Regions from separate parts of the Homo sapiens genome. Here regions 2 and 3 are each linked to region 1. Evidence: fine-mapped expression QTL. A gene starts in region 1. Each other region holds a variant in brackets. All regions are shown on one strand. Distances are from middle to middle.

The links. PIP is the estimated chance that this variant, and not a neighbour inherited with it, causes the effect.
Region 2: its variant is fine-mapped to the expression of IL16 in whole blood (TOPMed, PIP above 0.99).
Region 3: its variant is fine-mapped to the expression of IL16 in whole blood (TOPMed, PIP above 0.99). The same link has a PIP of 0.9 or more in blood mononuclear cells and monocytes.

What each region holds. Positions count from the first base shown.
Region 1 is chr15:81,193,681-81,201,630 of GRCh38, forward strand. It overlaps IL16 (interleukin 16), which reads left to right and starts at 3,199. Exons shown (of 19, transcript NM_172217.5): 1 at 3,199-3,472.
Region 2 is chr15:81,304,306-81,312,255 of GRCh38, forward strand. IL16 (interleukin 16) reads left to right here. Exons shown (of 19, transcript NM_172217.5): 17 at 1,603-1,861; 18 at 2,115-2,240; 19 at 4,300-7,950. The coding sequence ends at 4,493. STARD5 (StAR related lipid transfer domain containing 5) reads right to left here. Exons shown (of 6, transcript NM_181900.3): 6 at 4,748-7,950. Among named protein-coding and RNA genes, the nearest start is that of STARD5, 16 kb to the right of the region's middle. RefSeq lists enhancers at 1-131, 1-46 and a silencer at 4,249-4,426. The variant T/G (reference allele first, on the strand shown) is at 3,805.
Region 3 is chr15:81,294,730-81,302,107 of GRCh38, forward strand. IL16 (interleukin 16) reads left to right here. Exons shown (of 19, transcript NM_172217.5): 13 at 2,199-2,349; 14 at 4,651-5,746; 15 at 6,615-6,783. Among named protein-coding and RNA genes, the nearest start is that of STARD5, 26 kb to the right of the region's middle. RefSeq lists enhancers at 1,902-2,468, 2,469-3,033, 3,739-3,788, 3,962-4,011, 7,077-7,166. The variant G/T (reference allele first, on the strand shown) is at 3,267.

The DNA.
Region 1 (7,950 bases):
AAGAGAGCCGGGGAGCGGGAATCAAGGGACCAATGGCTTCTGACTGCACAGCCTTGGACGTGCACTTTTTGGACATGTAACTTCTCTGAGTCTCAGTGTTTGCATCCGTAAGTGGGGACGTACAATAAAATCATCAAGTTTTGGCCTCAACATTCTGTCTAAGTTGAAAGTGCTAAATGCAGAGAGAATTTATTATCATCATGTCCATTACTGTCAGGTTACATTACTAGTAACATTACATTACTAGTTAAAATTGTTACATTACTAGTTAAAATTGTTAAATTATATTCTGCGTCATGTTACATTACTAGTTAAAATTGTTACATTACTAGTTAAAATTGTTAAATTATATTCTGCTCATGATAATACAGTTCGCATGACCAAAAGTGTACAGCATAAAGAATTCCCAAGGCATTTTATAGATTGCAGGACAGCTCTTTGCTCAGACCTCTGAGCAGCCCTGTCAGATTATTGGGTTATTGTTTCCATTTTGTGGACATGGAAACTGAGACTCAGTAAGGTAAAAGGACTTGCAGTTGACAGAGCCGCTTAGTACAGAAGCTGGGGCTTATTGCTCTGACCCTAAGCTCTTTATTTTGCCATTGTTTGAACAGAATAGGAGATGACCCTGTTGTGTCATTTTAAGGACACACTTTCTTTTTGCCTTCTGAATATGTTTACTTGCCACAACAAACATGTATTACTTTTATAACTAAAATTTTGAAATTAAAAATTTTTGTAATTTTAATTTTTTAAATTAAATTTAAATTTGTAATTGTAATTTTAATTTTTAAAAATTAAATTAGAATTTTTAAAATTAAAATTTTTTAAATTAATTTTTCAAAATTTATAATTTTAATTTTGTAATTAAAATTTTTGTAATTAAAAATTTACTTTTGGAAATAAAATTTTGTAATTAAAAAATAGGAGAATTAGAAGGAAATACAGGTTATTGATTATGAAACTTTAGCAAGCATCAGAATCACTTGTTGAACAGATTTCTCAGTTCCGTGGGCTGGAAGGGCCAAAAAGGTGAGCAGGCTTCTGCTTGGTTAGCTGTTGGCAGCATGCTTCCTCCTCTATTGCCTCATTCTCTCAGTAACACTGTGCAGTAGAAGTTTCTAATTTCATCTGGCAGACAATTAATTTCATCTAATTTTCATCGTAGCAAACTAAGGCTGTGAATGACCAAGATCACACAGGAAGCTCTTGGTTGAGCTTCAAGTGGTGCTTGAACTTCCTAGTTCTAACCAGGGCGGGGCTCTCTCACCTGCGTCTTCCTCCCCGTCTCTTCTGGCTTGCAGTGAGCTGGACTATGGAGTGTTGGGCAGGGTGGAGACTCTTTCTGCAGGATGTCCTGAAGGGCAGAGGGGTGATAAAATTTCCACCTTGAAGCACAAACCACCCCGTATTAGGAAAAATCAGGGCCAAGTCTCAACTACACTTTGGAATAAATTTACCTTCTGAGAGTGAGAAAGAACAGATCTTCGGAAAATAGAGGGAGAGGCGGGAACTGGATTCAGGTGCCGATGACAAGAGAGAGCTTAGACTTAGTGGAGGAGGGGGGCTGTGGGGCCCTCCCAGGCCTCAGGATCCAAGAAGGGCAAGGCCAGCCCCCATAGCCCTGGGGTGCTGAATTGCTCCTCAGCCTCTCTGCCAGAGCAAGATGGAAGTGGGGCCTGAGTCTGTCCTGGCCCCACCGCACCCAGGCCATTGTGAGAGAGATTGTGGGTGTGAGCTGAGCAGGCGACACTGACAGAGGCGCTCACTCTCTGCAATTTAGAAATTCCTTCACTGCACTCCAGACTCACTCCAGACTCAGCCCTACAATGTCCCCTGTGCCTGCTGACAAAGGCAGCTTTATCCCCAGAGTGCTCCCTCCTCCCGTGCTTCCCTTGGGACCGTGGGCCTGTGTTCTCCAGCAGCAGCGGCTAGATCTTTGCAGCCTTGCATGGAATTTCAAGGGCTTCCTACAGGTTGCACCTACACCCTCATTAAAGCCCCCAGGAAGCCCTGAAACATTTGGTGCTGAGCGTTGGGAAACATTCCATTCTTTAGAAGAGAGGTCCATACAAAAACCTCAGCCTAGCATGTACACAGGGCTCACAGAGACTGAGCTTAGGAGAGATGTGTGGGATGCTCTTTGCGGGGCAGATGGATTAAATGCCACCTTATGATTAGATTCTCCAAGGGGCTACGTGGGGGAAAGGCACTCTGGTCTCATGACACTAATGCCAACAGGACACACACAAAAGTGCCCCATTCTTTTATGCTGCAGTTTTCAACATGCTCTGTATACGTTAGGTCATGGGCTCTCGCACCTGAGCACGCACCAAAATCACCTGGAGGCTTTGTGAAAACAGAGTGCCAGAGGTGCTGCTTCAGGAGGTCTAGGCCAGGGCCTGAGAACTTGCATTTCTAGCAGATGCTGCTGATGCAGCTGGCTTGAGGACCACTGAGTTACATAAGCTTCTGAGAGCCAGTCTGTTGTTTTTGGGAAAGGGTGGCACAGACAAGAAATGAAATGCTATGGAAAAAGCCTGGGCTTTGGAGACAGGTGGATTTTGACTTGCTAACTTGCTAACTGTGTGACCTTGGGGAAATTCCACGGCACGTAGTAGGTGTTTAATGAACGTTTGTGCAGTGGCTTTCTTTGTCTGCAAAGCAGGTGATATATTTACCAGATTGATGGCAGGATTGTATGTGATGACTTTTTTCCTCTTTTTATTAAATTTTTATATAATTTGAGAGGAGTTCTTGCTATGGTTTGCCCGGGCTTGTCTTGAATCCCCCGGCTCAAGTGATCCTTCTGCCTCAGCCTCCTGAGTAGCTGGGATTATAGGCACGTGCCACAGCTTCCAGCATGTGATGAGGTTTATAGAAAGCTCCTAGCAGCGTGCCAGGCACATTGCAGGCACCGAGTCATGTCTGCTACCTTTCGGCTCTCCTAGTCATTTCTGTGTTGTCCAAAGAAGGCAGGGGCAACTGGGCTGGACCAAGGAACCTCACTGTGGTTCTGTGGCTCTGCACTGGGTTTGCCTCCTGGGTGTTGCCGGCCAGCCCAGCAGATGGTGGACCTTGTTCTGAGGCTGAGCTTCTCAGCACTGGCAGCCCCCCTTTTTGGATCAAGCCTTTTCACGTGGAGCAGTCAGATGGCTCAGATCAGGAGTCTTCGAGCAAATCCATGCCAGGTGGGACACATTTGTCCTGAGTCACCTGTCCAGAGCAGGTGGTGAATATTGTGTCCTACTCACGGCATCTCAACTATCGGAGCCTGGGATCTGACTCAAAGGCCGGCCTCCGTCTGAGAACTGAGCGTCCATTTCTCAATCCTTGCCGGCTCTGACCCAGGCCTGGGCCACAGGCTGTCCGGGAATAAGTGGTGCTGCAATCCCTGCTGGGCAGATGGAGAGAGGAGCAAGGGAGATGGCAGCCCCGGGGGACTGTGCATAGGGAGGTAGGTGGGCACCAGGTGAGTGAATGTCTGTCAGGCAGCTGCTCTGTCCAGGTGGCCGTTACCGGAGGGAGGAAGCTGGCCTCTCTGACCTGAATGGGGAGGGTCTTGGTTGCTAGGACGTAACTTCATATTTGGAAGTGGTGCTGGGGTCAGGGGCAGGAGCAGAAGCCAGGATTGTGTTGGTAGGAATCTCTGTGTCACCATGTCACAGTTAGGTACAGGAGGAAGCAGCTTCAGAAGGCCAGAGCGGGCAGAGGGATATCGCTTGACCTGGCTCTGCAGCACGGGGAGAATTTGGTCCTGAGATTTCTGACTTTTCAGCCTCGTCTCATCCTTGGCAATGGGGTGTGGAAGGAGGTGGAGGAAAGGAAGGCAGCAGGAGAGAGAAAGGCCACGGGGCACCTGATGGGGGCTTCTCTGCTGCCTGGCCAGACTCCTTTTCTCCAAAGTGGGCACAGCGGGTGGGCATCTCTGCAGATTGACCATGGGAAAAGTGTTCACTCTGCTTGCTTTTTGATAAGGGTCCCGTGACTAATTCCTGCATTGGTAGGTCCCAGGATTGGTGTTTTTTTGTTTTTGTTTTTTGTTTGTTTGTTTTTTTCTTTTTTGGTCCATAGCAAGTTTGCTTTCTGTAGCTGGAGAATGAGGTAACAGCATAAGAATAGAGGTTCCCTGTGGAATACAGGGAAGCATCTTCTCCTCCTGCCCTTATCAGGTGAAATCCTCCCACTTCAGGCTGAGCCATACAAAGACGACCCCTTTGTCCCAGGAGGCCAGTTCAAGCTCCCACTGGGTTCCTGGAAGCAGCCTGGGAGCTGCCGTCTCTGTGGCTCCCCTTCCTATTTCTCCAGTTTCCCCCGGAAGGAGAAGACCGTTCAGCCTTTTTCCTCCTCTGTTCTCCTTCTTTACCCTGAAGTTAAGTGATGGTCAACATTTACGAGCACAGTAGAAGGCACCTCCCCTGCTGCAGATATGACGTGGGCATGAGCCGTCAGGTGGGTCAGACCCTTGAAGCCTCTACTGCTCATTTATTCAATCCCCAGTGAGTCTTTTAAATAAAACTTAGTACCCCAACCATTTCCTGGCCACTCTTCAAGCCCCAGGCACCAAGCTAAAATATTCACATACCTCATTTAATTTAAACCTTACAACAACCTGGAGCTTAGGGAGTATATCCCCAAACCGAGAGGTGAGGAGGCTTGCACAGGACCACTCAGCTAGACGTTCCCAGGACCCAAACCCAGCTTGACTCCAAAATCCATGCTCTCACTGGCTTTGTGGCATGCCTCAATAAATACTTGAGTTTCCTCAACACAAAGATGGTCATATATCCATAGGGTTAAAAAATAATCTCTGTTGGATGCAATTGACTATAGAATTATTATTTTCTAATTGTTTGTATTCATGGAAACCTTTTTAGAATTAAAATCTATCATGAAAACTCATGTATAATCAGTTAAGGCAGAATTATTTTGGCAGAGGCAGACCAGGACCTTGAGACCTGCCCTTTTGTCAACCCCTCCCCCTTTCTGGTTCCCAGCAGTGGCCCAGGGGTATAGGAGTGAGAGGGAGGGAGGTACACTTTGAATTGAAATCTACTGGCCAGGTACAGTGGCTCACGCCTGTAATCCCAGCAATTTGAGAGGCCGAGGCGGGCGGATCACTTGAGGTCAGGAGTTCCTGACCAGGCTGGCCAACATGGTGAAACCCTGTTTCTACTAAAAATACAAAAATTAGCCAGGCGTGGAGGCACATGCCTGTAATCCCAGCTACTCAAGAGGCTGAGGCAGGAGAATTGCTTGAACCCGGGAGGCGGAGACTGCAGTGAGCCGAGATCATGCCACTGCACTCCAGCCTGGGTGACAGAGGGAGACTCCATCTCAAAAAAAAAAAATATATATATATATATATATATATATATATAAAATACATATTTTTTATTGTGCATTTGAATTGGTAATACATTTTCATATATAGGTTACGTTTTGCTATTAAAAAGCAATTCATTGTGAATAGCAATATGCTCATAAACACGGGGAGAAAATAGGCATGGGGCAAAATAAACAAATAGTTCCAAGAACTTGGAGTTGTGGTTAACTAGGAAGGCAGCTTGAAATCAGGAATTTACTTCAAGTTCTTCTTTTGAATTCCTGTTGAAATAAGGACGAATCTATGTCAGTCTTGTAAACTAGACAGTGTTGCTCAGTGTGTGCCAGAAACACTGAGAAGTCTCAGTGGATGTCTCAGGTGGATGTGAAGGACGTTGGGTGGAAGGGCGGAGCCCATCAGGAGGGAGGCGCTGTTCTTGCCACATCTGGAGATGCTGGAGGAGAGGTTTGCTTTGAGTGGGAGCAACTGGTAATGCTGGACAGTGACCCGATGCTGGGATCCCGCGTGGAGATCTCCATCGGTCTTGCCCCTGGCTGAGTCTTGGCATGTGCAGCTGGGATGGAAATGCTCCTCCAGTGGACAGTTACAGCAGCTAAGACATGGCTACCTTGCTCAGCCAATAGGAGGCGGTCACCTACAAACATCCCTTCCAAAGGTTCAAGGCTCCCCTGAGAACTTGGATGCTGGGGAATGGTGCACCTTCCCTGCTGCTCACTGCACCTCTCACCTGGCAAAGAAAAGCCACAGGAAATCTAAGCCCTTTCTGCAGTCTGGCATCGGCATATGAAAGATTCCAACGAGGAATTTCAGAACTCATCCCAGCTCCCGAATCTGAGTAAGCACAGACCTCTTGAGTAGGGCTGAGCAAATGCGGCAAAATCAATGCACATATGACAAGATTCAGTGGCCCAAAGAAGGGAGCTAAATGAGGAATCAAAGCAAATACCCCATATGGAATTGCTGTAAAAAATCAGAGAAAACCTGAAAGTAGTGGTTTTCAAGCATGACCCACTAGTGGATTGAAAATCAACTTAGCGGGTTGGAACCAACTTCCTTTTTCTAAAACAAAAAAAGAATAGCATACATCAGATTGCATCAGGTTCTTAGCAAAATCATATTTTATATTATCTTTTTCATACCAAAGATATTTTATATTATTTTTATTATACCGTAGTAAAGGTATTGTTTCATGAAAGTTTTTAGTTATATATATTTATTTATTTATGTATACATATAAATCTTATGTGTATGTGATCCATGTACTATGATGTAAAATGTAAATTATTATGGTAAGTCAAGATTTTTTTAATTTTTAAAATTCTTTAAAAATTATTTTTATTTATTTATCTATTTATTTTTTGAAACAGGGTCTCACTCTGTTGCCCAGGCTGGAGTTCAGCAGTGCAATCCCGGCTCACTGCAGCCTTGACTCCGTGAGCTCAGGTGATTCTCCCCCTTCAGCCTCCCGAGTAGCTGGGACTACAGGCACACGCCACCACACCTGGATAATTTTTTGTATTTTTATTAGAGATGGGGTTTTGCCATGTTGGCCAGGCTGGTCTCAAACTCTTGAGCTCGAGTGATCTGCTCGCCTCAACCTCCCAAAGTGCTGGAATTAAAGTCGTGAGCCACCATGCCTAGCCTAGGTCAAGATTTTAAAAGTTTCATAAATAGTCCTGTAGAACACTGGGTGGAGTTTGGAATGGTGAAAATGTGTCAGGAGAGTATTGTAACTGAAATATTCCTGATCTTCTCTTTCAAAAAGATGGCCTTCTTCCCATTATCCAAGGCAAGGATTTCAGGCCTGAGTCAGCCATAAGCTCATCTGTCTTTTTTTCTGTACTTACCTCCTCATAAATGGATTAAGAGAGCCTCGAGCAATGGTGAGGGTTGGAGAAGGTGGACAGGTGGCCCAGTCTTATGCGCTTTCCCTCTCTTCCTTCCTTCTCCTCATCCTCCAAGGATGGTTGTAGCCAACTCCAGCCAAAGTGCAGATGCCAGAGAATCCTGCAGCAGTTGCTGAGAACACAGGATACCTGTCACATTTACTGAAGCAGTGGCAGGACAATGCATCCCCTGCATTGAGCTAGTTGTCAGAAGCAGAAAATAAAAAGTGTGTGTGTGTCTCTGTGTGTGTGTGTGTGTATGTGTGGTGAAAAAGAGAAATATATCTAAAAATAATCTTAAAAGACATGATATGTAATTTCTTACCAAAACTCAAGCCAAAGCAATCACACATACACCCACACACATGCACGCACACACCCCCATCCACACACACACACACAGAAGTAAATGACAGCAGTTGGACCATCAAAATCTGAAAAATTCTTTCAGGCCAAAGACTCCATAATGCTCTATAGCTGTTATTTTGCATTTCTTTGAATCTCCTCTCAGTTCTATTTAGAGATCACGAAATGTCTAATTTAATGGCCCTGCCCTTAGTTCTCCAGGAAGGAGATCTTAGTTGTTCATCCACGAACAACTTTTTGAGCCACTTTCCTACTTCTATTTCTTCCAGTAGGCAGATCATATTTTGGGTTTCTTTGTTTTAAGTTTGTGGTTTTTGTTTTTCCCTCTTTTTCTTTTTAGGTTGTAGTTAA
Region 2 (7,950 bases), 110 kb after region 1:
CGTGTAGTTTACTTTCTACTTGAAGAGGAGGAAAGAGAGCTTGCCTGTGGGAATGGCACTTTGGGTATTTTTCTCTGTCCATGAGTAGCAACTTCTGTCCACGTCATCTGGCCAGTCACCCTTGAGACACTGCAGACAACAGGAAACTAGGAGGAAGGCGCACATGTTGGCTGAGCACATGCACAAAAGCTTCTTTCTCCTTCTGTGTTTGAGCATTTCTCTTCCTTTCCAGATGATTAAAAGGGAACTAACGTAGAGCACCATCCACGGCCATGCTGAGCACTCACTGACCTGTTGTCTAAATTCATCCTACCCACACTTTGGATTGATAAATTGGTGGCATTTATGCTTCTTTTATAGAGGAGGAACCTGAGGTTCCTCCTTTAATTAACTTTAATCTTCGTTGGCCTAAAAATCCTCTAGCATTGAGGAACCTGAGGCTCAGAGGAGAGGTTCTGCTTCATGCTTGGATGTTACAGCCTGGGGATTCTAACCATGTAACAGAATTTTTCTAACACCAAAACAATTTAGAGAAGCAAAGAGCTTTGCTCCTATCATAAAAGCAAAACTACAGGTACCACATTTTAGTGGTTTCCATGCATGCTATCACTCAGTCCTCTTAATTATAATGGACCTCATTAAAGAGGCTGAGGCAGAGACATGAGATATTTTTGTGTGTTTGTTTATCCCACATATCTTGCAGAAAGGGGACCAAGAGGTGACTGGAGGTAAAGAGTCAGAATTTCTAGGGGAGGAGCTATAAAAATGTCTAGACTGCCTAGGAGAGTGTTTCTCAAAATGCATTCTGCCAAATGAGACCGAGAATTTCTCTATGAGAAAAGAATTCTTTGTTGAAACACTTTGGGAATCCCCATAATACCCTGCCAATACTTAGAAATCTGCCATGCAGATTTGCATTGTAGACCCTCTAAATGCCTTTTGCTTAGAAATCTGCTGCCATGCAAATTTGCATTGTAGACCCTCTAATGCCTTTTGCTTTTTAAAAGTAGACAATGTCAGAGCTTTTGTTTCACCCAGTATTCCTCAAGTTTCTTTGATTTTAAAAAATTTTTCTTGGCCGGGTGTGGTGGCTCATACCTGTAATTCCAACACTGTGCGGGGCCAAGGTGAGAGGATTGCTTGAGCCCAGGAGTTTGAGACCATCCTGGGCAACACTGGGAGACCCTGTCTCTATTTTTTAAAAAATAATAGGAAAAGCCTTTTTCTTACACAATACCCGTTAATATGCCATAGAATCAGTGCCTTGAGAAAACTACTCTGGGGACTTCTGACCTAGGGCAGGTGAAGCAAAAGATTTTATATGGAATCCCAACTAGAATCGTGGTGGTACACTATAGGACGTTGTGTTGGGATGGATTCTGAGGGCTTACCTGGTCATTACTGCTGGTGATCTCTGCTCTGGATGGAGAAGGAGGGAATGCTGGCCTCTGTGCCAGCAGCTCCAATCTAGGACACAATTATCTTTAATCTTTGTTGGCCTAAAAATCCTCTAGCATTGACTAACCGGTTCAATCCTCCTCCAGCAAGTATGTGGACTGGACTTGTGTGATTTCTGGTCCTGACTTCCTTTGGTTTGCTCAGGTTCACAGAGTGTTTCCAAATGGGCTGGCCTCCCAGGAAGGGACTATTCAGAAGGGCAATGAGGTTCTTTCCATCAACGGCAAGTCTCTCAAGGGGACCACGCACCATGATGCCTTGGCCATCCTCCGCCAAGCTCGAGAGCCCAGGCAAGCTGTGATTGTCACAAGGAAGCTGACTCCAGAGGCCATGCCCGACCTCAACTCCTCCACTGACTCTGCAGCCTCAGCCTCTGCAGCCAGTGATGTTTCTGTAGAATCTAGTAAGTTCTCCCAACTCAGTGGAAGCCACATGGGCCACATCCTCTTTGGCCATTTGGGGCCAGACCTGATGGGGCTACTCAGTAATTTGTGACCCCAAGAATGTGTGGCTGCCTAGTACACTGCCTGAGACGTGTTTACATGTGCCTGTGTGCAAACACGGGGGCTGTATCACCCCGGGCTCACTTGAAGCCCAGGGCATCTGTGGCCTGGGAGAGGAGAGGATCCCTAACAGAGACCTTGTGTTTTTCTCAGCAGCAGAGGCCACAGTCTGCACGGTGACACTGGAGAAGATGTCGGCAGGGCTGGGCTTCAGCCTGGAAGGAGGGAAGGGCTCCCTACACGGAGACAAGCCTCTCACCATTAACAGGATTTTCAAAGGTGTGGGGTGTGTCTGGTTCTTTGCGTGCTCTCCAGTTGTGGGCATGTGGCCAGGCCCCCAAAAGGCTTCTGGGCACTTTCTGGGCTATGTTGTTTCCCACAACTCCATGTCCTCTTCATAGGCATGCTGGTCCTTTTAGGGCTCAATTCTGCTTTTTCTACTTTTTCTCCTTTGCTCAGACATCCCCTCAATCCCCCCTCTGTTTTGATGGGTCTTCAAAAATACCTAAGTCCTGGGCTTGGTTCGGGTTGGCAGGGCCAGGACTCTAGAGTGGGGCAGTGAGGCACTGGCCTGTGGGGCAGAATTTTAAAGGGGTGCCAAAACACTCAGTAACTCAGATCGATACTATTTTAATGCAGCGTGTTTTTTAAAATTAATTTTAAAAAAACATGTTGGACAAAATATCCAAGTTTAAATCAAGACAGAGTCTGACTTTGTACTGCACACTTGGCCTCATTTGCCTTACCCTAGTCCTGGACACGTCAGCTCCTGCCTTTATTTAAAATGTTGATAGATATTTTGTTCATCAGGGATTGGAGTACAAACCAGTCTGATATGGGGGTCACTTGGATTTCCCTGTGAAAATCATGAATGACTGTGGCTACCATGTAAAACCATCCCTGATTCTTTGGTGTTCCTCAAATTGGAGGTCTCCAAGCCACAGAGCAAGGGGTTGTAGAGAGAGGAGTACTGGACAGGGAGGCAGGTGGGCCAGGTTCTAGTCCCAGCTCTGCCTGTAATGTGCTGAGTGACCCTTCCCTTCTGGGCCTGAGGCTCTTCATCCATAAAAGGAGGTAAAGAGGTACAGGTGTGTGTCTGAGGGCTCTTAGGACTGAGACCCAAAGGGACTCTTAGCTCTGTCCCTCACCCACTATGAGCTCCTGCTGCTGACTGGTTTCGTTAGAGGAAGTTCTGCTGCGGCTGCAGAAACCCAGAAGGTAGAGTGAGGCTTACATGGCATTCCCCCCAGAATCCATGTTAACCCCAATTCTGGGAAAGATATTTCTAATTTTTGAAGGTCAATTTGGAAGGAGCATTGGGTTCAATGTCAAGAGGACTAGATTCCAGTGTTAGTTCTGCCACATGACCTTGGTAGCATGATCTTGGACAAGTCACTTCACCACCATGGGCCCATTTGCTTAAATGTTTAGGATGAGACTGCCAGCTGCAGGGTGATGTTGGAAGGAGAGATGCAGATTCTGGAGCCAGAAAGTCTGGGTTCCAGCCCAGGGCCCACCACTAGCAGCTATGAAGCTCTGGGCCAGTTACTTGAGTTCTTGGTTTCCTCAGCTGTTAAAAGGAAACACAAATAATACACCCCTCATAGGATTACTGTCATAAATGCAAAACATTAGCACAACGCCTGTTAAAATAATTGCCCAATACACTTTAGCTATATTTTCATTACTATCATTAGTATTATCTTCTACTCTTATCAGGATTTGTGAAGATCACTGTGTCAAATGGATGGGAAATTTTATTTTAATATAAACAGTAAAATAGCATTGTTTTCACTTGCAGCTTTGAAATAGTGGGGGCCATATATGGTTGTTTCCTTTTTTA[T/G]GTGGACACAGAGGACTTCGTGCCAGAGGCAAGATCCCTGTAAATATTGTTGCACAAAAATCTCACTAGCTCTCTTCCCATACCACCCAATGCTGATGTCCTCACCACATGCGGAGAACAAATGTGAAGGGAGTAGGATATTGGGTCAGTGTCCAAAGCAGGGTCTGGGCAGGACTCAGCTCCCCAGAGTCCTCTATGAACTATGGACGGTGCTCCAGGCAGGCTAAGGCGTGGAGCTGCCTGATATTTCCCTCCCCTGGGGACAGCAAGGGCTATCCCTTTCCAAAGGCCATGGAGAGCTGGAGCCTGGTGCCCTAACCTCTGAGTCACCATCTTAAGAGATGCCTCATTTTAGAACCACCAACAAGCAAGCTCCCAAGGGATGGTGCCCTGTTCTCTACCAAGCTATCCTGGCTCTTTGGAGATCAAGGAGAGGAGGCAACTTTCCTTGTTCCCCATCATCTGTGGAACCCATTACCTTCTCCCTCATTTCAGGAGCAGCCTCAGAACAAAGTGAGACAGTCCAGCCTGGAGATGAAATCTTACAGCTGGGTGGCACTGCCATGCAGGGCCTCACACGGTTTGAAGCCTGGAACATCATCAAGGCACTGCCTGATGGACCTGTCACGATTGTCATCAGGAGAAAAAGCCTCCAGTCCAAGGAAACCACAGCTGCTGGAGACTCCTAGGCAGGACATGCTGAAGCCAAAGCCAATAACACACAGCTAACACACAGCTCCCATAACCGCTGATTCTCAGGGTCTCTGCTGCCGCCCCACCCAGATGGGGGAAAGCACAGGTGGGCTTCCCAGTGGCTGCTGCCCAGGCCCAGACCTTCTAGGACGCCACCCAGCAAAAGGTTGTTCCTAAAATAAGGGCAGAGTCACACGGGGGCAGCTGATACAAATTGCAGACTGTGTAAAAAGAGAGCTTAATGATAATATTGTGGTGCCACAAATAAAATGGATTTATTAGAATTTCATATGACATTCATGCCTGGCTTCGCAAAATGTTTCAAGTACTGTAACTGTGTCATGATTCACCCCCAAACAGTGACATTTATTTTTCTCATGAATCTGCAATGTGGGCAGAGATTGGAATGGGCAGCTCATCTCTGTCCCACTTGGCATCAGCTGGCGTCATGCAAAGTCATGCAAAGGCTGGGACCACGTGAGATCATTCACTCATACATCTGGCCGTTGATGTTGGCTGGGAACTCACCTGGGGCTGCTGGCCTGAATGCTTATAGGTGGCCTCTCCTTGTGGCCTGGGCCTCCTCACAACATGGTGTCTGGATTCCCAGGATGAGCATCCCAGGATCGCAAGAGCCATGTAGAAGCTGCATCTTGTTTATACCTTTGCCTTGGAAGTTGCATGGCATCACCTCCACCATACTCCATCAGTTAGAGCTGACACAAACCTGCCTGGGTTTAAGGGGAGAGGAAATATTGCTGGGGTCATTTATGAAAAATACAGTTTGTCACATGAAACATTTGCAAAATTGTTTTTGGTTGGATTGGAGAAGTAATCCTAGGGAAGGGTGGTGGAGCCAGTAAACAGAGGAGTACAGGTGAAGCACCAAGCTCAAAGCGTGGACAGGTGTGCCGACAGAAGGAACCAGCGTGTATATGAGGGTATCAAATAAAATTGCTACTACTTACCTACCACATGCCAAGCACTGTGCTCAGGGCTAAACGGGCATTGCCTTTAGTGATCACAGCAGCTTCTACGGTGTATGGTTCTGTGCCAATGTATTGATAAGAGGGCACACACTGTGTACAGTAAATGGCTTATCCAGCTGGTGAGTGATGCGGCAGATTGAGTTTTCTTCTGTGATTCGGTGGAGACTATCAGCCCAAGATGCTTTAAGTGCACAACATTACAGGGAATGCCTGAGTGCCTGGCCAAAGGGATATTTGGTTTGGCCATCTCTGGATGCCTGATTGCCAAGCTCAGGACCAGGCAATGTGACTTTGCATCAGCAACAACCAGCATCCCTTGACCAGGCCTGGGCCAGAGTATTGGTCTCCTCTCAGCCCCTGATCCTGTGAAGTAAGGATGTGGGGGAAGACCTGGCAAGGACACAGATGAAACACAAACAATAGTAATTCTCAGGCCATCATCAGTGGAGCCATGTTAATGTAATCTGATGGCTTCTCCAGGGTCCACAGGAAGTGAAGAATCTGTTTCCCAGCAGTGGACTCAAAACCCATCTGGGCTCCTAACCTTCCTGTAAACCCCTTTAGTGGCTTCATTAGAGCAGGCGTTCAGCTCACTGTTCTATTCATCTCAAGGAATAATGGGCTTAGAGCAGTTTCTGTCCTGCTGGTTAACTTGTTTGGCCTATTCCATTCTGGATTTTGTCAAGCAGTAGACAAGCAATTAGACAAGAACTTGGAGGCACCATTTGTATCCACTTTTTAGACTTAATAGAAACATTGAAGATGAACATAATCTACCAACGAAAGACGTGATTCAATTCAACACTCCCTTCCCATGACCCAGGCTGGGCAAGGAGGCCACGTGATGTGGAGGGCACATTCCTTGCCTGCACAAACTCACCATCTGTGCACGCAGTGGCCTTCCCTAAAATCAGGGAATTGTTTTAAGTCTTATCAAGCAGCCAAGGGATGAAAGAGAAGGTGGGTTTTCATCAAGACTGGAAGGTGGGGACAGGGATGAGCATGGAGCTGGCCGTGGGCCTGGGGTACCAAGAGACTCCTTGAGAGACCAGGCAAAGCAAGTGATTGGGACAGAGGTTATCTGTCCCAGGTTATCTGGGCATAGATGCAGGTGAGCCCATGGCCCTCCCAGTACCTCCTGTCTCTGGCCTGTTTTAGAAGGTTCTCTCCTCCCCAAGGAGACACAACAACTCCTAGGGCCACTGAAGATATAACTATTGCCCAGGTTTCTGGTCTCTAGGCTGGGGAAGTCCTCTGGGTAGGAATCAGCAAGAAGATCCTAAAACAAAAGCTCATCCATTTGCGTTCCATGATGCTGGGATTTACACTTGAGGCTTAGCTTTGCTCTGCCAACTTCTTCAGAGCTGACACAGGATGAAGGCAATGCCATCCTCAAACACTGCAGGCATCACAGCTAACAATTGTGAAGTCGTCTTAACTCACCATAAAAAGGAATCCACTCCCAGGCAGCCCTACTTCTTTGCTTTGCCCAGCATTTTACTGATTCATACATTATCTCACTTGTGCCAACACTCAAGAAGCAGGCTACACTGACACTGGTATTCCTGCCTCCATATTTTCTTTAAAAGACAAATCAAAGCAGATATATTAAGTGACTGTTCAAGAGCACACTTGGCCCAAGTGGCAGAGCTTGGACTGGATGCATGTTTTCCAGCTCCTCATCCAGGGCTCTGACCAGTTTAACCTGATGCAGTCACGTGGAGGAGCAGTGCAGGCACAGTATGTCCCATAGGCCCAGTGAGATGCATTCTTGGTTGGCTGGCCTTCCACTTGGCTACACAGGGATGTACAAGGCGATCCCATCTTGATAAGACCACCACCTCAGAGTATGGAGCTCAGAGAGGGCAGGCATGAAGTTTCCTTGGCTGGTGCACCTAGAATTGGCTGAACTCATGAGAAGTTGATATAGAACAGTGCTTGCCACAGAGCGGGGACTCGGTAAGCACTTAATGAATGAATGAATTCTAAGTCAATCCAAGAGTCTGATGATTTCTTGAAAAGGGTGTTAGCTAAAGGATCTTAGGCATGACTGTAGAATTTGTAGTTGCAATAGAACAGAGAAAGAGGAAGCTTTCTGTCTCCTTAACACTGAGCTGTCATGTTTTAAAGCTTGCTCACATCTTGGCACATTTAAGAGACAGTCACCCCAGGACTCAAAAATAGGGAAGTAACAGTAACGCAGGGGAAACGTTTTCTGTTTGGAGGAGCAAAGGCTGAGAACACTGTGAAAACATTTTGCGCGCACAATAGTAACCTGGGTAAATGCAGCGTGAAGGGATTTTAGTCACACGTGGTCTTTCTTACAAGGAAGGTGGTGGGGGTGCAGATGAGGTTGCTAGAGAATGTTAGAGGATCCCTCTCTGGATTGGAGATAGGGAAAGAAAGTTGCACGGCTGCTGAGGCCCCTTCTAGGTGGCAAGGCTGTGCTCCCTGGTTCTGATGA
Region 3 (7,378 bases), 100 kb after region 1:
AATCAGCACGACATAATTTTATTGGGCACTGGAGAGGCGGGGGTCACAGAGAAAGGATCATAGCACGCAATAGAAAACAGGAAGCAATTTGCTTGAGGTCACTCTCAAAATTTCCTTGACCATTCCTGGGGATTTCTCACTGGATGTTTTCTTCCGTGGCCACAGTGTCCACTGTCTCACTCTCCCACTTTTCCCTCCCTGCAGTCTTTTCTCTACAGGGTCCCAAGACTGTTGTCAAGCTGCTATGGATGACCCCCAAGTCTTTCCCATCTACTCTAATTCAAGGGGACTTAACTCTCACAACCAATATGAACTTTGGGATATTTTCTTCAACAAAAAACTAACATCCCTCTTATAAAAAATCAGCCTAAACTCTCCCCCGTGCTTTAAAAAACTTGCTTAAAAAAACACAACAGGATTTTCGAAGAATCCTTTCTTAGAAAACAAACAAAAAAACCAAACAAAAACGTACTTTCTCCCCACTATGCTGAATCTGCTCTCTCCCTCTTTCCTTCTTTCTCTTCTCCCTCCCTCATCCACCAAGCATGGTTCCAGGAAACACTAGTAAGAGAAAAATTTGTGTAAAATCAAATTTATTTCAGGGGCTAATTCTGAAGTCTCCCATGAAGAGGATGCAATATTGGATGTGTTGATGAAAAGACAAAACACATTTGTGCTGTTCTAAGTTGTAAAGCTGCATTGACTGCAGTTGGTATCACATGTGGCTGCCTGTAAAAGAGCTAACAATTCATGAATGTCAACAGATGTCAACTTACAGAGCTCCCAACCAGGTGAAATTAAATTTCATCCCCATGTAATTTCTCTTGTGGACAAGAGACTTAGAGATCATCAGGCCAATATTTGGAGCTTCTAATGCCATGACTCAGCCTTACTTTTTTTAAGGGCTAGTTCGAGAAGCTCAATGATTCCTTTGAAATTGGTTGATCTCTCAGTATTTCATAATGCTCTCCTAAAGCTCAGTTCTACAGTAGGGAACTCGAGCTGAGGCAATGCTCTGTGAATACACTTCTAACTTTTGTAGACCTTTGCTTCCTCCAAAATGTTTATTGTCAATGTAGATCTTAAATTTCAGGTCATGGATATTTGCCATTGCTTTTTTAGTCCCAAAGGATGCATTTGTTCCTTCCTCTTTCCTTCCTCTCTGGAAGGAAGCCTGCAGCCATGTCAAATGGCCCATCATTACACAAATCTGGAATGAACCGGACGTGGAGGCCACCGCAGTATAGCAAAGCATTTCTCTTGCAGACAATCAAATACAGGTGGCATCATTTTGATGATGTCTGCTTTCTCAATCTTTTTTTCCAGATGGGTATTATGTTTGGTTGGGCTATGTCTCTGGAACACTATTTTTCTGCCTCTCTGCCTGCAAAATTCTTACTCTGTTTATGAAGCAGACAGAAAGTACTTCTCTAGGAAGCCTTCTCCACCTCTGGGATGGAACTGGTCTCTCTGTTTCCTCTGGGCCCTGACAGTACCTTAAGCACACTGTGTGATAATCCAAACTCTTCAAGTATTGCATAGCTATTCAGAGCCTGGTTCATCTTGTCCCTAGGCTGTTTTGGGAGGACCCCAAGGCTGCATCCAGGCTCAGTGGTGGAAACAATTCTGCAACAGATTGAGGATGTCACCCTAGGTGCCACAGAGGGGAGCAATGGCACAGGTGCTGAGTATCTGTCATCTTTTGCAGAACACTTACTAAATATTTGAAGAGTGCTTAACAAGTGACAGCAATTGACAAGCATTTTCCTGAGTGCTCTAACCTTAGGGAACACTAGCTGCCAGGTTTTTTTGCTGCCTTGTTTCTACGCTGCCCTATACCCTCCCGGGGTGGGTAGTTCACCAGATGCAGTTGTAACTGAAGCAATGCCAGTCCCTCCACACTCAAAGCCTTTTGTTCCTATCATAAAGAGTCAGGGTCTTCAAGTATGTCAACAGTATGAGCCCATGACCTGGATACCAGGTTGCTGGAAGTCAAGGGATGCTCTGCATGTCTAGGAGGTGCTGGCTCTGCCACGTCAGCACCAAGGAGAAAAGAATCCTCTTTACATGGCTGCTGATGAACTTCTCACTGAAAGCAGCTCAATATCCGTTTTTCCGTCCCAATCAAAGCGTGTCTCGCCTTCTCACAGCTTGAGGCTACCGTTTTGACATGGTCTCGCTTCCTGTTTACACCACAGGAAGCGAGAGAGCTGCTGCCACTGCTGCTACCACAGGAAGACACAGCAGGGAGAAGCCCTAGTGCCTCTGCCGGCTGCCCAGGACCTGGTATCGGCCCACAGACCAAGTCCTCCACAGAGGGCGAGCCAGGGTGGAGAAGAGCCAGCCCAGGTAAGCTTTCATTGAGATCTTCCAAAAGGAAGGGTCTTTTGAAAAAAGGTGCAGGGATAAGATAAGAGCACAAATTGGCCTGAGGATCAGAGTGCTCTGCATTGACATCACCACTGGACCTGGCTGATCAACAGTCAAGGGTTCCAGGTGCTGGGCAGCAGCACCGTGGAGGTGCTGTCCAGGGTGGGGAGCCTCCTGGGTGGACGGGTGATGCTGTGGGGGTGGCAGCAGGAATGCAGGCCATTCTGGATAATTGGGAGGATGGAGCCCTTGGAAGAGGTCCAAAGACACACCCACCCAGCCATCCTGGGCAGCTACCTCTAGGGTGCCAACATTCCAGTTGCAACAGTCCTGCTGCATTCAGGATTTCTGAGTCAGAGAATGCAACGCCAGAAAAGTATAAATAGCATCTACCAGTGGTCACCTCCTCCATGAGGTGGATAGCAAGGGTGTGTCCACATGGTACACCTGACAATGCTAAGACATGACTTGAATATTTATTTGCTTGCTAGAGAGAGCATAGGACTTGAAGTCAGGGAATCCTGGATCTGTCTGTCATTAGTATGATTCTGAGCAACCTACTTTGCCTTTCTGAGCCCAGATTCACTCATCAGCAATGTGTGGAAGAGCACGTAGACCCCAAGCATATGATGCATTCAGCAAGCACACATTGAATGCTGGCTTCGTGAGGCCCTGTGCTAGATGCTGGGGGGAGAGAGAGAAAGGGATGAGACCAGGTAGTCAGGTCCTGCCTCCAAGGAGCAACTAGTAGTGGCAGGAAATAAACATATAGACTATAAAACATATGACTGTTTGAGTAACACTACAGAAAAGCTCATGAAAGACTTTTGGAGGGCTAAGGGACATTTTGGAAAGATCTAGCACATCTCACCCAGAGCAGAGGCCCTGTGGGTGGA[G/T]GCTCCTCTCCCTTAGTCACCCTAATTGAGGAACATTCTAGCAAAAGCAAACGCCTCAGTGTTTAACTGACAGGAGGTTGTCACTCCAATCTGCAAAGGGCTTGCCTGTGGAACCTCTGCCTCCTGATTCTCACAACAGCACCTTACAGCCAAGCCATTCAAAAATGCAGAAACAGGCTGGAGGCCTGGGCTCACTTGCCCAAGGCCAGTCTCTTAGATTGTGCAGAATTTCTCTTTGATATCATCAAGGTGTAATGCTCCATGATTCACTTCTTTTGAAACCTGGCATTGAGACAAGGGACAGGAGGGATCAGAGTTCCTTCAACTGGGTTGCGTTCCAGTAGCAAGCATCCCCCAAGGCACACAGGCCAGCCTCCCTCTGCCCCTGGGAAAGAGAGCCAGGACACCCTCTCCCTTACCCATGCAGATATGATGCTGGTTCAATGCTGGCTTCTGAGAAAGACTCCTATGTGCTCCAGGGCATGCCTGAGGTCCTGGCTGGCACAGAGCAGGTTGCACATTGCAATCCCCTGCTCATCACATTCCCAACACCCAGGCTGCATCCCAGGTATCTTCAGTCAGTACCTAGGGGTGGGCGTCAGTATTTTTCAGGGCCCTCCAGATTCCAGTATGTAGCCAAGGTGGAGAATCCTACTTCACAGATTCCTTTCTACCTGGAACCTTTTCATCAGCTTTTGAGGGAGGGAAAACACTCCTTTGCCGAGAGCAAGCTGATCAATGACCTGTGTATAGGCAGAGCAGCAAACACACGGCTTCAGGGCCAGGCAGGTACATACATGGGAAATGCTGGCTGGGTGAGAGGGAGCGTGAAGAGCTGTGGGAAGCCGAAGTGGCCCCATCAGAAGCTGTGCACAGGCACCTTGTTTTTAATGACACGGGTAGGTCAAAGCACAAACAGCTGCCAACTCATGACCTTTGTCTTAAAAGTTTAAACGGCAGGAGAACTGCTTTGGCTTTTACACATTTAACATGGTATCTTGGAGGCTCCTTAGTGCAGTAGAAAGGACATGAACTTCAAGAGTCAGGAGACACAGGGTCTTGCCTGAGCACTGCCATCAGATGGCCCCTTACCCTTCTTGAAATGTAATATGCCAGAGGTCGGCCCAGATATTCTCTGAGCACCCTTCCAGGCCTAAAACACTAGGATACTGTGAGATTAACTCCTACTTCTGGTCCTTCACTCCTGCCTGTTGGCAGCTCAGTCAGGTAATAGCACCTGGAGTTCACCCACCTGGGTGTCCCCCACTTCTGCTAATCTCCTCCTCTTGAATCCTTCTTGCTGTTCAGCTTGGAAACTAGAATTTAGGAAGAAAAGTCACTGTATGATGTAATGCACAGCTTTGGCCTTGTTTCTGCACTGTAGTGACCCAAACATCCCCGATAAAACACCCACTGCTTAAGAGGCAGGCTCGGATGGACTATAGCTTTGATACCACAGCCGAAGACCCTTGGGTTAGGATTTCTGACTGCATCAAAAACTTATTTAGCCCCATCATGAGTGAGAACCATGGCCACATGCCTCTACAGCCCAATGCCAGCCTGAATGAAGAAGAAGGGACACAGGGCCACCCAGATGGGACCCCACCAAAGCTGGACACCGCCAATGGCACTCCCAAAGTTTACAAGTCAGCAGACAGCAGCACTGTGAAGAAAGGTCCTCCTGTGGCTCCCAAGCCAGCCTGGTTTCGCCAAAGCTTGAAAGGTTTGAGGAATCGTGCTTCAGACCCAAGAGGGCTCCCTGATCCTGCCTTGTCCACCCAGCCAGCACCTGCTTCCAGGGAGCACCTAGGATCACACATCCGGGCCTCCTCCTCCTCCTCCTCCATCAGGCAGAGAATCAGCTCCTTTGAAACCTTTGGCTCCTCTCAACTGCCTGACAAAGGAGCCCAGAGACTGAGCCTCCAGCCCTCCTCTGGGGAGGCAGCAAAACCTCTTGGGAAGCATGAGGAAGGACGGTTTTCTGGACTCTTGGGGCGAGGGGCTGCACCCACTCTTGTGCCCCAGCAGCCTGAGCAAGTACTGTCCTCGGGGTCCCCTGCAGCCTCCGAGGCCAGAGACCCAGGTGTGTCTGAGTCCCCTCCCCCAGGGCGGCAGCCCAATCAGAAAACTCTCCCCCCTGGCCCGGACCCGCTCCTAAGGCTGCTGTCAACACAGGCTGAGGAATCTCAAGGCCCAGTGCTCAAGATGCCTAGCCAGCGAGCACGGAGCTTCCCCCTGACCAGGTCCCAGTCCTGTGAGACGAAGCTACTTGACGAAAAGACCAGCAAACTCTATTCTATCAGCAGCCAAGTGTCATCGGCTGTCATGAAATCCTTGCTGTGCCTTCCATCTTCTATCTCCTGTGCCCAGACTCCCTGCATCCCCAAGGAAGGGGCATCTCCAACATCATCATCCAACGAAGACTCAGCTGCAAATGGTTCTGCTGAAACATCTGCCTTGGACACAGGGTTCTCGCTCAAGTGAGTTTCTACACCCGGTGTTTCTCTTTACCTTTCTCATCTTTTTCTTTCTCATCTTTATTTTTAAAAATAATCCTATATATAATTTAAAAAATTCCCAGATATATTGATTAAAGAATTGTTCTGCCTCTTTCTTTCCATGTGTGTGCAGATGTCTGAGTGTGTGTGTGTCTGTCTGTAGGTATTACACCTCTGCCTTTCACATTAAGGAGGAGTTTTCACAACATCTGGCTTCAGGAGGGCTGGGAGGTAGGAGGTGGGACTGGCTCCCTGGTGAATTGCTCATGAGGGCTGACATACGCCTGTGGAGATTTGGAAGGTTGATGCACATCTGAAATGTCCTGCGGTTACTCAGAAAGACCAGAATGAGGCCAGGAAATTATCCATCAGGAATTCTTACTCTCCAAATGGAATCCACTTGTACTCTGCACGTGGGTTCAACTCCCTCGTCAGGGAGTTAGGATGTCTGGGTCCTAGTCTCAGCTTAGGCACTGATTCTGACTATGAGCAGGTTCTTTCCATGCTCACCCTCAGATTCCTTGTCAGTTGAAATTAGGAGATGGATGAGACCTTCTATGCAGAACCAAGAGGATGTCAGACGTGCCATAGGGTCCCTGCTGTAGGGCTGGGGCTTGGTCTTCCCTCTGATCAAAGTAGCTCTGCATTTATTAGTTTTATTTATTATTCTTACACTGCTGGGAAATATCTGTAGAGTGAAGGTATGCTAGTATCTACTCATAGATTTGTTGCATCAAATAATATGCACATAAGTGCTTGGCACCACACCTGGGACATAGTAATTATACAATCACTGTTACCTCTTTTTAATATTGTTGTTCATACTGTGTGTTGTTTCTCCTTATGAAAGCCTTTCAGAGCTGAGAGAATATACAGAGGGTCTCACGGAAGCCAAGGAAGACGATGATGGGGACCACAGTTCCCTTCAGTCTGGTCAGTCCGTTATCTCCCTGCTGAGCTCAGAAGAATTAAAAAAACTCATCGAGGAGGTGAAGGTTCTGGATGAAGCAACATTAAAGGTAGGTTTCCTTTGTAAGCATCTGCAGTAACCAATGGCTTATTATGGCTGTGTGGCCACCTTAGTTGGGCCAGAGGGGAAGTAGCTTGAGTAGCCTGCTCACATCAGACCCAGGTTGCGTCCTGTGATGGTGGGACACTGTAGCACTTGACCACAGTAAGACCTTCCATTTGAAGAGAGCCTTTTAGCTTGTGAACCACTTTCAGTAGATTGACTTCTTGCATCTTCTTTTGTCATTTTATAAATGAGAAAGGTAAGGCTCAATCAAGGTTACAGAACCTGGGTTTTCTGTCTCCAAGTTCAAGTTCAGTGCTGTTTCCACATTCCATGTGCTGCTGTCCTGGCATGTGTCTGTTGTGGGATGCTGTCCATTGTAAACAATGTGGGTTACAAGAGCTCTCACCTGGAGCTTTCATTATTTCCACTGTGCATGGAGAGGTGGCTGATCCCAGGGCTCACAAGTCCCCCACGCTTCAGTCAAGTCATTCTGAAAGTCTCACTTCCCATATGTTTTCTGAGCATGACCCAAAGGGGTGTGGGGAGGAAGTGGCCAGGCTGAGCTGGGGCCAGCAGTCAAATGAGCTCAGGCTCATGGG